2 separate regions of the Homo sapiens genome follow, and region 2 is linked to region 1. The links come from fine-mapping of genetic effects on gene expression. A gene starts in region 1. The other region holds a variant in brackets. All regions are shown on one strand. Distances are between the middles of the regions. Region 1 holds the start of NPY2R (neuropeptide Y receptor Y2). Region 2 has its middle 45 kb from the start of NPY2R-AS1.

The links. PIP is the estimated chance that this variant, and not a neighbour inherited with it, causes the effect. A credible set is the group of variants that fine-mapping cannot tell apart.
Region 2: its variant is the best candidate, but not a certain one, in a credible set for the expression of NPY2R in prefrontal cortex (ROSMAP, PIP 0.53).

Annotation. Positions count from the first base shown.
Region 1 is chr4:155,206,626-155,212,007 of GRCh38, reverse strand. NPY2R (neuropeptide Y receptor Y2) reads right to left here and starts at 3,372. Exons shown (of 2, transcript NM_000910.4): 1 at 2,939-3,372. NPY2R-AS1 (NPY2R antisense RNA 1) reads left to right here and starts at 3,836. Exons shown (of 2, transcript XR_001741894.2): 1 at 3,836-3,983; 2 at 4,193-5,382.
Region 2 is chr4:155,160,371-155,165,752 of GRCh38, reverse strand. No RefSeq gene overlaps it. Among named protein-coding and RNA genes, the nearest start is that of NPY2R-AS1, 45 kb to the left of the region's middle. The variant C/A (reference allele first, on the strand shown) is at 2,345.

The DNA.
Region 1 (5,382 bases):
AAGCTCCAAGTCCTTGGGATTCTGGCTGGGTTTGGTCGGTGGGAGGCACTGGCAGGCAGCAGGAAGGGAGAAGCCACTATATTCTTCTTCCTCCCTCTCTGCTCTTGGCAGTGCCTCTACAGCAGTTCTGTAGCTCTGGTTTTCATAGGACAGACCTATTGTGATTCTGATTCCAGAGGGTGTCCCTGTTCCGGGGGCCTTGGTCACACTACCTCTTCCTCATATCCATCCAGCTGGAGGCAGTAATGACTTCCTGCTCTTGGTAATCCCTAGGTAGTCTCAACATCCATTGTTTGGCTTCCATCACTTGTTTAATCAACTATCTGAATTAAATTACTCCTTTTTTACATTCTTGAATAGATTCTGTTTTGCATGATCTGATAATAACATACATGTATGCTTTCATTAATTTGCTCTCCCACCAAAGGATCTGCACCCACAGGTTGACAACACTGGCCTATAGAAGAAAATCCCAACTCCTTAGCCTGACATTCGAGGCTTTTCTTGAACTCATCCCTGCATATCCCTCTGGCCTCATCTCTGCTGACAGCCCAATATATACTGTCCACTTCTGTCATACTGCCTTACTTCCAATTCCAGTAACACCTGAGCCTTTTTCATGCCTCTCTGCCCTCCCCGTTTTAAACTGGGAAGCCTCTCAGTTACCCCAAGCCCCTGTGCTCACTTCTAATGCCGCATGTACCACATGCCACGTTGTGACTGTTTTCCTTCGTTTACCCACCACAGCAATCTCTTTGAAGACAGAACCTAGACCTTCTTCCTCCATTGTTTAATCCCTAGCACACTATATAGCATATTAAAGGTACTCAGCAATTTGTCAGAACAAATATAAAGCTAAAGGAAAGCACAATTATACTGAATAATCAATGTCAGCCAAATGGAAAGTATAATTTTGATCCTTTCCTTTACTGAAGACAACTGCCTATGTAGGGTTCTTCCCTATGACATAACATCCATATGCTTATTTTCTTATTCTTAATCAGATAACTGCTTATACAAAAAAAAAATTGTCCTGAGACCCTGTTAAATTAATTCCTGATTATAACATTTTAAATTGTCAGTATAACCCATAAAGAAAACTTTCTGTTTCAAAGGTTTCTGCTCCCCCAACTCTCTTTCTCCCGCTCCATTTATCTCACTTTTTTTTCTCTTTCCGCATCTTTCCCTCACTCTCTGTCTCTCACCACTCACCCTTCCACAGGAGCCTTACTATACAGAGAGACATGAGAGTTTCCATGTACTCAGGTGTTTGCCGTACTGATATATTCCTGCTCCCTCTGCATAAATTTCACATAGAACATTCCAAGGAGCCCCAGCCTCTTTTCACATGTGCCTCCACTCCTTAGTAATTAGAGAAATCTGAAACAAATCATTCATATCTTGGAGTGTATGTTTGATAGCCCACACCATATCCCCTAGACTAAGAAAGAGACTGGTTTTAGAGTACAGTTACTCAATCCTGACAAGCCATTTAGCCATTTACAGAATTAAAGAGACTCCAAGAGGCTGGAGTTTGGAGGTTATACCTGACTAAATTGAGAGGAAGCATGAGATTGAAGGTTACTAGGAGGAAGAGTATACTTGATTTTTTGATTTGCTTTGCTTTTTCTTCTCAGTCTTGTTTTATAAATTTTGAAGCCCTTTTATTTACAACTTCTCTGTAGGAATGGTTGTTGATCTACAAGCTCTTAGAATATAGACAGTGTTAGCTGTGCTTAAGCAGGTTACTCCCTTCAGCCAGGTCAAAACATTACCCAGAGCAGAAAATGCATCATTTCATGACAGCACTTCTGGAAAAGTGGGAAAGGAAAATGGTACACAGAGGAAGTTGCCATCAAAAGCACACAAAGGAAACAGCAAGCAGACAAGGGAATAACCTTTCTTTGAAATAAGGCAAAATGAGATATTTACATTACTTTAAGACATTTAAAGAGAACTTTTACTGGTACAATTTTCCTGAATAAGGGAATCCTTAGAAACTTTGTCATAGAAACATTTCTTTGCAGAATAGGAAAAGAGTTTCAGGACTTCCCCCAGCAGCCCACCACCCGAGATTCAAATAACCTCAAGTTATTTGAGTCAGAGACCAGTTCATGCTTTGAGGAGAGATGTTTAAATCTGTGGGGGCTTTTTGCAACAATATTGTCACAGGTTGGCCTTAGTAAACCTACACATCTTATCAAGCACAATGTCTTCCAGAACATTTTTCCCAGGGAAAAATATCTCAGAAATCAGTCTCAGAAATCAAAAGCCCTGCATTTGCCTACACTAATTAGTTCTAGGAATGGGGGCAGGGGAGGGGGAAGAAGGGAAGTTTCAAGAATGCTACATACAAGACATGATTGTTTGGCTAATCAGTAGAAAGTTGAAAATATTCACCAAAGGGTGTGGGAAGCCTTTCTTTGGAAACAGCATCTCCATTTCATGTCACTGAATTTTAAATGATGTGTACCTATTGCAAAAAGTCTCAAAGCTTTTAATTTTGCCTCTTTCCCTGCCACCAAAAGCTCCTGCCAGTGGGTGAGCCTTTCTGATGGAAAATGAGCAAACGCTTAAATGAATGTGTCTCCTCTTGAACGGCTTTGGAGAATCCAATAGGACCTTCTGCTTTAGACAAGTGTTTGATTTTTAAAGAGGCAGGAACAATAACAACTTACTGTTCTGGAAAGATAATGACCTATCTCAAAGAAGGGTCAAGGAAATAGTAAATAATCTTCAACAGAAAAGGGAAAATCTAGAGAAAGTAGAAAATGGGGATGGTATTACATCCTCCAAATCGCCACCTCCCGCCTAAAGGAGGAGGAAAAAGTCCATACACTCATGAGGACCTCCTCATGTCCCTCTTCATAGGAACCGAGCGCTCCTCTAGGGATTTTCTTGTTCCCAGGAGGTGATCAGAGTTAGGAATTACACTTACTGACCTGGACCTCGCGTTTTTGCGGAGACGCGGAAACAAGATGTGTGCAGTCCGTCTGTCCGATGATTAGCCAGCCGACCTGGAGAGGGCCCTGGAAGGTGCCCAAAGGCAAGTCCGGTTCCGTCCCCTCCTAGGGTCCAGGACAGCCCGCGCCGCGCGGGCGGGCAGCCGGAGCAGTCAGAGCGGCTGGGCGGTTGGCGCTGCCGGGTCTGCTGCCGACCTCTCAGGCCAAGCGCGCCTGGGCACCGCACTCACTCGCGGGGTGGGCGGGTGAAGGTGGGAGGATCAGAGATGGGAGCGTGGGGAGGGGGGCAAACCCCACCCTTAAACACAAGAAAACAGGTGCAGAGGCTGCGGGCGATGGTCCTGCAGGGGAGGGGACTGGAGGAGAAGTTTTGGTGGCGAGGGAGCAGGAACAGTGTCCAGGGTCTCTCAGCCGCCTCCCGGGCTTGCAAGCCCGCTCAGCCAGACCCTACCCAGAGGGGCGCCCCCTCGCGGGTCCCCAGCCACCACCTGCAGCTGCTGCTGTCACCTACTGTGCCACCCCCAAGTTTGATACTCTGGGCGTTTGCGCCACCCCTACCTCCCTTCCCTTCCACGAATCTCTCCCTTTGCTCTCTACCCCCCAGTTCCGCGAGAGCTGGCCCGGCGAAGACAGACCTCCTGGACTTGAGGCCGACTTCACCAAATCCGCCCCGGGAAAAGGCGAGGGCAAAGGCGGGGCGGACAGACCCAGCTGCGGCTGAGGGACTGCGGTCCCTAGCAAGGCAGGCGAGCGAAGGAGACCTCAGGCTGGCGGGAGGAGGGCCGGGGCTGGAGAATCCCCGCGCCTCGTAGGGGCTGAGAAAATTCCACAACTTCCAATCGAGAGTTGTTTTCTTTTGTGTGTGTAGGAGCAGAGATGGGGAGCTGGATCCGCGCAGAACCCCGGAAAAGCGCCAGCAGGATTGCACCGAGAACAAATCCTCCGCACCCTCGCCCAGGGCTGGGGCGCAGTGCGCTGGTGCTCCTCTAGCTGGGCGGTCCCTGTGCTCCAAACGAGAAGGTAAAGCGAGTTCAGATCCTGCTGCCCATGATCAGCAATTTCCCTAACAGGTGTCTGCAGACAGTTTATAAGTTGAGTAGTGCAGATTCAGACTCGATAGCCAGGAACCTGTGTAGTGAGCTCTGGCTCAGGTTAAAAGCTAGGATAGGGATAGGATAGGAAAGCTATGGGACACGAATAAAACACAATCTCTCTCTCTCTCTCTCCAGATAGCTGACTTCCGAATCCTTCACTCTTTGATCCTGACCCAAGCCACTCGTGCCACTAGGAGCGCATGCCTATGGAATACTCGCTCCTGTCTCCTTGTGGTGAAGCCTTCCGCTAATGCCCAGAGCCTCCCAGGCTGGATTAGTGGGTAGGAGCAAAACAGGATAGTGGAGACAATCAGCAGAGCAGCAGCGTCTATTTCCTCGGGATTCCTCCCAGGAACCCTATTCGAAGCCATTCCTTCTAAAAGTTTGCAGCCAGTCTCTCTTTCCTTTGTTGGTTTTAAGAGGAGGCAGTAGAGCTACCTACATACAAAAACGAAAGCCTGATACTGGTAACCTAAGTCTTTACTTAACCATCCTCTTCGGAGGCTTTGCACACATTACTTTTCCTCTATGCATTGTCATTTCTGAAATAAGGATGGTCATACTGGTGTGCTTGGAATTTCTCTGAAATATACTCCTAAAAGATTAGATTAAGATTAGATTCCGCTACTCTAAAATGAAAAAAAATATTTATCTGTTTAAAAAGGTAATACATATTCTCCAAGATGTTAATTAAAGGCTTCCCTCAAATGGATTGGATTTTCAGTTCCTTCAGGGTTTTCCACACCCTAATAGTATTGCATTTGTAAGGCATTTTTACAGTGTAACCTGAAATTAATCTTCAGTTAATATAGAATTATGCCCACAGGAGTATAGGAATTGTTTATAAAACAAAGCAGCCTGGGCTTTTCAAATACCTAGAAACAAAGGTAAACAGAAATGGAAATATTTAACATGTTCTACACAGTTCCACTTAAAGTCTTTTAGTAGTTGTTTTTGTTTTGTTTTGTTTTGTTTGTTTTTTCCTTAAGAAAGTACTCTTTGCCCAAATATGTGTTATATGTGACAGGTTCCATTCTTCTCAATATATCTGCATTGGTGAAGAATGAACCATATACCAATAAGTTATAACTTTAAAAGAGTAGAAATGGATTTAAACAACGACCACAAAAACAAATCAAATATCCAGCAAAACAGATGAGTGTTGTCTTTTAGAGCAATTGCTTTGGAAAATTCAACTGATTTCACTGACATTGATTGCACAAAACACATTTTATCTTCTTTAAAATTGCCTTTCAGAAGCGTATTAGCAGCCATAACCAACTATTTGCCTCACTCTCTTATAGACGTGTGTTTGTCTTAGTAGA
Region 2 (5,382 bases), 46 kb after region 1:
CAGTTTTTCTCCAGGTAAAGTGCCAAATTTACTATAGATTTTGTTTTTTAAATTAACCATTTAATATGGGTAAAACTGTGCTGCCATTTTTATCAGCCCACTACTTTTTTTTTTTTCTTTTTTTGTTTTGTTTAGATGGAGTCTCACTCCTTCGCCCGGGCTGGAGTGCAGTGGTGCGATCTTGGCTTACTGCAAGCTCTGAACAGGCTCCTACTTTTTAAATATATGTCACTGACAGTTTTTGAGTGTTGGGCCCCTAGCCCCATTTCTCCCATATACCCTGTCTTTCTTACTGCATGATTTGTCTAATGCAGTACATTTTAGGAATATATCTGTTACAGCAGAAATGAAGATACCTTGAATAAACACTGTCTTCTCCCTGGGTTGATGTCCTCATCCACTGTTTTCTGTGGCTCTTAGCCCAGCCCTCTGAGAGCTTGTTCTTTACCTCTTATCCTCCTTAGCCATATCTGAAGTAGTTGCATGTGTGCTATGCCTCCTCAGACACTGCTCAGCTTTATCAGCCTATTTCCTGCTAAAGGGGATGATATTGCAACAAAAAATCCAGAACACCAGGGTCATGGGATGATATGACAGTTCCAGCCTATGTGACAGACCCACCATGTGGATAGGAAGGCATATTCCATTAGAATAAAAAGAAGAAAGCATACCAGGCAGACAACAACATTAATTAAAATAGTCACGAAGGCACGAGTGTGTCTCCTGACCCAGAATAAGAGGCAACTCTCATTATTGAGCCTCTTTGAAACCTTCTGGCTATCCTGGAATGGATTAGAATGAGTGATCTCATTTGTCTGTCAATACAGCCCCTTTCCCTAACCTCATGCCAACTCAGCTAGACCTGCATTGGGCTTGCTTATTCACACACCCAAACTCATGAACCTTTGTTAAAGAAGCCAGTGGAATTTGAGAAATTCACTTTTCTTCTGAACCATTCTGCTCCTGGAAATGCAGGTCAGAGTGTTTTTCATTAAAAATGCCACTGGTAATAAGTTCATTCACCCATAAACTTTCCTATTATTTTGTAATTTTTTTAAAAAAATCTCAATTGTTATGTATTCCTTATTACACCCTAAGCATTTGAGATTACAAATTTCTAATATAAAGACATTGTATATGAATAAAAACAGGAAGGTCGCATTGCCTTGTAAACCTGACGTACTAAAGGAAAATAACATGACATTTTACAACCAAGAATTTAGAAAGAAAAAAAACCTGAAATCTTTATTTTTTTCACAACATTTAAAGGACAATGGTTCAAATTATATTGAGAAATATAAAAATTTTGGAGAAAGGAAATTCACATCTATAAGCACATCATGTGGGAAGACTTTGTAATAAGAGTGCTTTGGAAATATTGCACTAGAAATGAGTAAAATAAATGAATGTTTAATGGTATCAGGCAATGGCAAGATATGTTCATCTCCATAAAGAGCCACACAGCTCTGGCATGAGGCAAGCAATGCCTTGAGGTCAGAGTACCTTTTGCCTGGGAAGTTCTTAGATGAGTAACAGCGAGGAAACTAACAGGTTAAGAGAAAATAATTGCCTTTCCTAAGACGATCCAAATAGTGTTCAAGTCTTCAAACCTTGTTTTGATGCTCTTTCCAGCATACCATACTGTTTGGTGCTCTTATCAATATACCCTGGTGTCTCCATACCCATACTGTGTAGAAGAAGAAACCTTGGACCTTGTTTATAGAGGAAGACTCCATACAGGCAAGGTTGGGATCCCTTGAAGAGTGTCACTGTGTAAGTATTATGGGTTAAATTGTGCCCTCTCCCCAAAAAATACATGTAAATTTTAACCTCTGGCACTGCAGTGAATATGACCCTGTTTGGAAATAGGGTCTTAGTAGTGTCATCAAGTTATAATGAGGTCATTTGGGCAGGTCCTAATTCAATATGACTGGCGTCCTTATAAGAAGAGAAGACACAGACACACAGGAGGAAGACAGCCATGTGACGACGGAGGCAGAGATTGGAACAATGTATCTACAAGCTGAGGAATGCCAAGGATTGCTGGCAAACATCAGAGCCTAGGAAGAGGGAATGAAGGAGTTTCCTACAGATTTTAGAGGAAGCATCGCCTAGCCAATACCTTCCTTCCTGAACTGCAAGACATGAATTTCTGTTGCTTTTAGCTTGGTTGAGGTTCTTTGTTACGTGACACATTACTATAGTATTTTTGTTTCAAAACAGGCATTGGACCCTGGCACAAGAAGCTGTGGCAGACACTGTTAGTTACCTAGATAAAATCCATACCTGTTCCATTGCATCTCTTCCCTGCTAAAAAATCCTGCTTTCGTTCAGACATTGAAAA[C/A]CCATTTGCCTACTTCTGGCCCCACACAGAAGGTAAAATGTAAATTAACCTAAGTTACTCAGGGTCATCTCATCTCCTTTATCAGTGATGTTTTGTTAAACACTCTTTTTTCCCCTTAGACATTATCATGTGTGACGAGCGGCTTACATGGTGGTTTATGTTGTTCAGCCAGGTTGCTGCTATGAAGGGAAAGTCCACAAGAACCACAGAGAACTCAACCTGAATACCTGACAACACCGAGCCATTGAATTCATCACTCCTATAACTGCCTTATTCTGGGCTTCTTACCACACAATGTAGTATTATACCATAACCTTGTTTAGTTGGATTTTCTGTTACATGTTCCTGAAATCATCCCAGTTGATGGAAATGTGAAGGCAACAGAAAGCCATAGATTTTCCATGTCCTCATTACATTGTCCAGAGGCAGACAGTACCTGGGGGCCTCTCAGTGAGGCTTTACTGTCTCAAAAATGCCCACTGGATTGCATAAATCGACATGGTGTTTCTGCATCTCAGGTTATTCATTTTATGCAAAATATACATGTCAAGATTTTTACATTATTTACTAAATGCAGTGGCACAAGAAATATTCATAATGCATTTTGGATTATAAAAAAATGAAAACATTTAGCTTTTATACCTTTTCCATTATTTGTGTTCCAGAAGCAGCCACTGCAACTTATAATGATTTCTAACAATCATTCTCTCGGTTTTTCAACTCCTTTCCAATTTTCTGCATAGTTCAAAAGTCTAACTGTTATAATACCATGAAATCGTAGACTTGGGAAGGATTAAAAATTTATTTGACCCTCTATCACCCATTTGATATTTGAATTCTCCCTCCAGATCCTCACTGCAAAACCAGAATCTCCTTTCCAGTGACAGGGAACTTACTACTTACTCTATCTTCAGACAGTTTTATGTGTAAAAAGTTCTTTCTTTCTAGGTTAAAAAAAAATCTCTCCTTGTATATATTTTGCAAATGGCCTTAATTCTACCCACAAGGACCACAGAAAAATTTAATTACTCTTTCATGTAATAGCTGTTATCATGTGAAGTCAGCCATATAAGTCAGTTCTTTTCTTTTCAGTCCCCTCAATTCTCGTTTCCAGGACACACACACGTGCACACATACACACACACACACACACACACACTACTCCAAGAATATCTTGACTAGTGCCTTTAATTAGAACTGTCCCCCTTTCTTCATTATTTTAATTTTATTAATGCATTTAATGGTCATTGAAACTTTAGCTATTTACACACTCTGCAGCTAAGCCCATGCCATCTACTAAAATATTTACATTATGTCCACATTGTCCCCATTACATTTCATCTTGAGGGATGTGGTCCATTGATCAGTTATTTATTGCTTTCTGAGTCCTGGGCCAACTATCCACACATTTGCCATTTCAACAAGCCTTATTCTTTTCTTAAATTTGATATTCATCTGAAGGGTGAATTTGATATTTTAGATGAATTTGGTATTCATCTAAATTCATCCTTATTGTTTTTATCGTTAGACGAAACTTGCCTCTCTTCTCCAAATGGAGATGTTTAATCTATGTAAGCTTAAGGGTCCCCACTTGACATTTATCTAAGATTGCTTTTTAAATTCCAGGAAGACTCGAATGATGCAGACTCAAGGCGGACAACGAGGGAGGGAGGTACCTGCTTAGGTTGGCACCTGAACGTATTGGTATCTGCTGAGCCACCTCATGTTCATTGTGACTTTGGTTTTATTAAATGCAGATCCTGCCATATTATTTTTGTTCCTTGCAAAAAGTTCCCTTCAGGTCTGTGCCATGCTGTACCCTGAGCACAAAGGCTTATGCTGTTGCTCCCTTGCCAACTTGGTGATGTCAACCTAAATAACAAAGAGAGCCTCTCTAAAAGAAAACTATATTTATTCAGGAGTAGAACATTGCAATGGGAATACCCATGCCATATTAAACTATGTGCTTTTTCTGGGAGGTAAAGGAAGACAAAAGTTTTTAAACAAAAAATGAGGAGGATCACATAACTGTTTTGAGATAATTATCCTTGGCTACAAAGATCAATAACAAGGGTGATGCCAATTCAAAGTTGGACAGGCAGTTGCTGGAGAGATGTCCTTGCAGAAGGATTTTGTTTTTTTAGTATAAGATTGCAATGACCTTAGTTCAAGGTTATGGTTTTTTGTGGAGTCTTTTGTGATAGCTTTGTTATCGGGCACACAAGCATGAGAACCCCTCCTTCATAGACTTCCCTGGCTCTCTTTGTTAGGGTTCTTTATTGCTTTCAATATTAGTGACTTCTTTTTATTCTGACAGCTTTCACATTTGCCCCTTTTGATCAAGGTTTTTTTTTCCAAAAGCATCACTGATCAATCATCCTGCAGTTAGGTTTTAATGATCCTTGGTGCCTGGATGACTCTTTCCTGCTTGCTGGTTTCATCCCACATTAGGGGGAATGATTAGCAACTAGGAATCAGTATTCAAAACTTTTTTTAGCCACATTTCAGCAGCTAGGGAGTTTTGAAGGAAATGTCTCTAAAGCAAAATCTACTTGGAGTCCATTATTGAGTTCAATTTTGTCTGTTCCACAGTCTTTTGTTATCATGTCAAAGTGCTGGGCCAATATTATTCTGTTAGTAGTACTTCTGCAAAAAATTTAACAAGTAATAGATACGAAGTTTTAAAAGGGAAAATACAAAATAAAATTAATATTAATATGACAATCCCAGTTTGTATAATAGTTTTCAGCCATAAACCCAAGCTTAAAGGCAGTCAGTTTAATAAATCAAATGACCTTAGGGAGTTAGGTTGTAACTGTGTGGCCTGTTTTTTAAATTTTGCGTATATGAGTCTCAACTTTCCCAGAGGGATTTTTCCAGGTCCACCAAGCAGTATTAGCAATTGTACAGATATTTTTCTTACTTAACTAAGGGATTCTAAGGGATTTTTTTTTTTAGGTTAAGTTCTGTTAAGTTACCAGAAGAAGATACTGCTTGTGAAATTTCATTACATACAACATTATTCTGCTATATAAAAA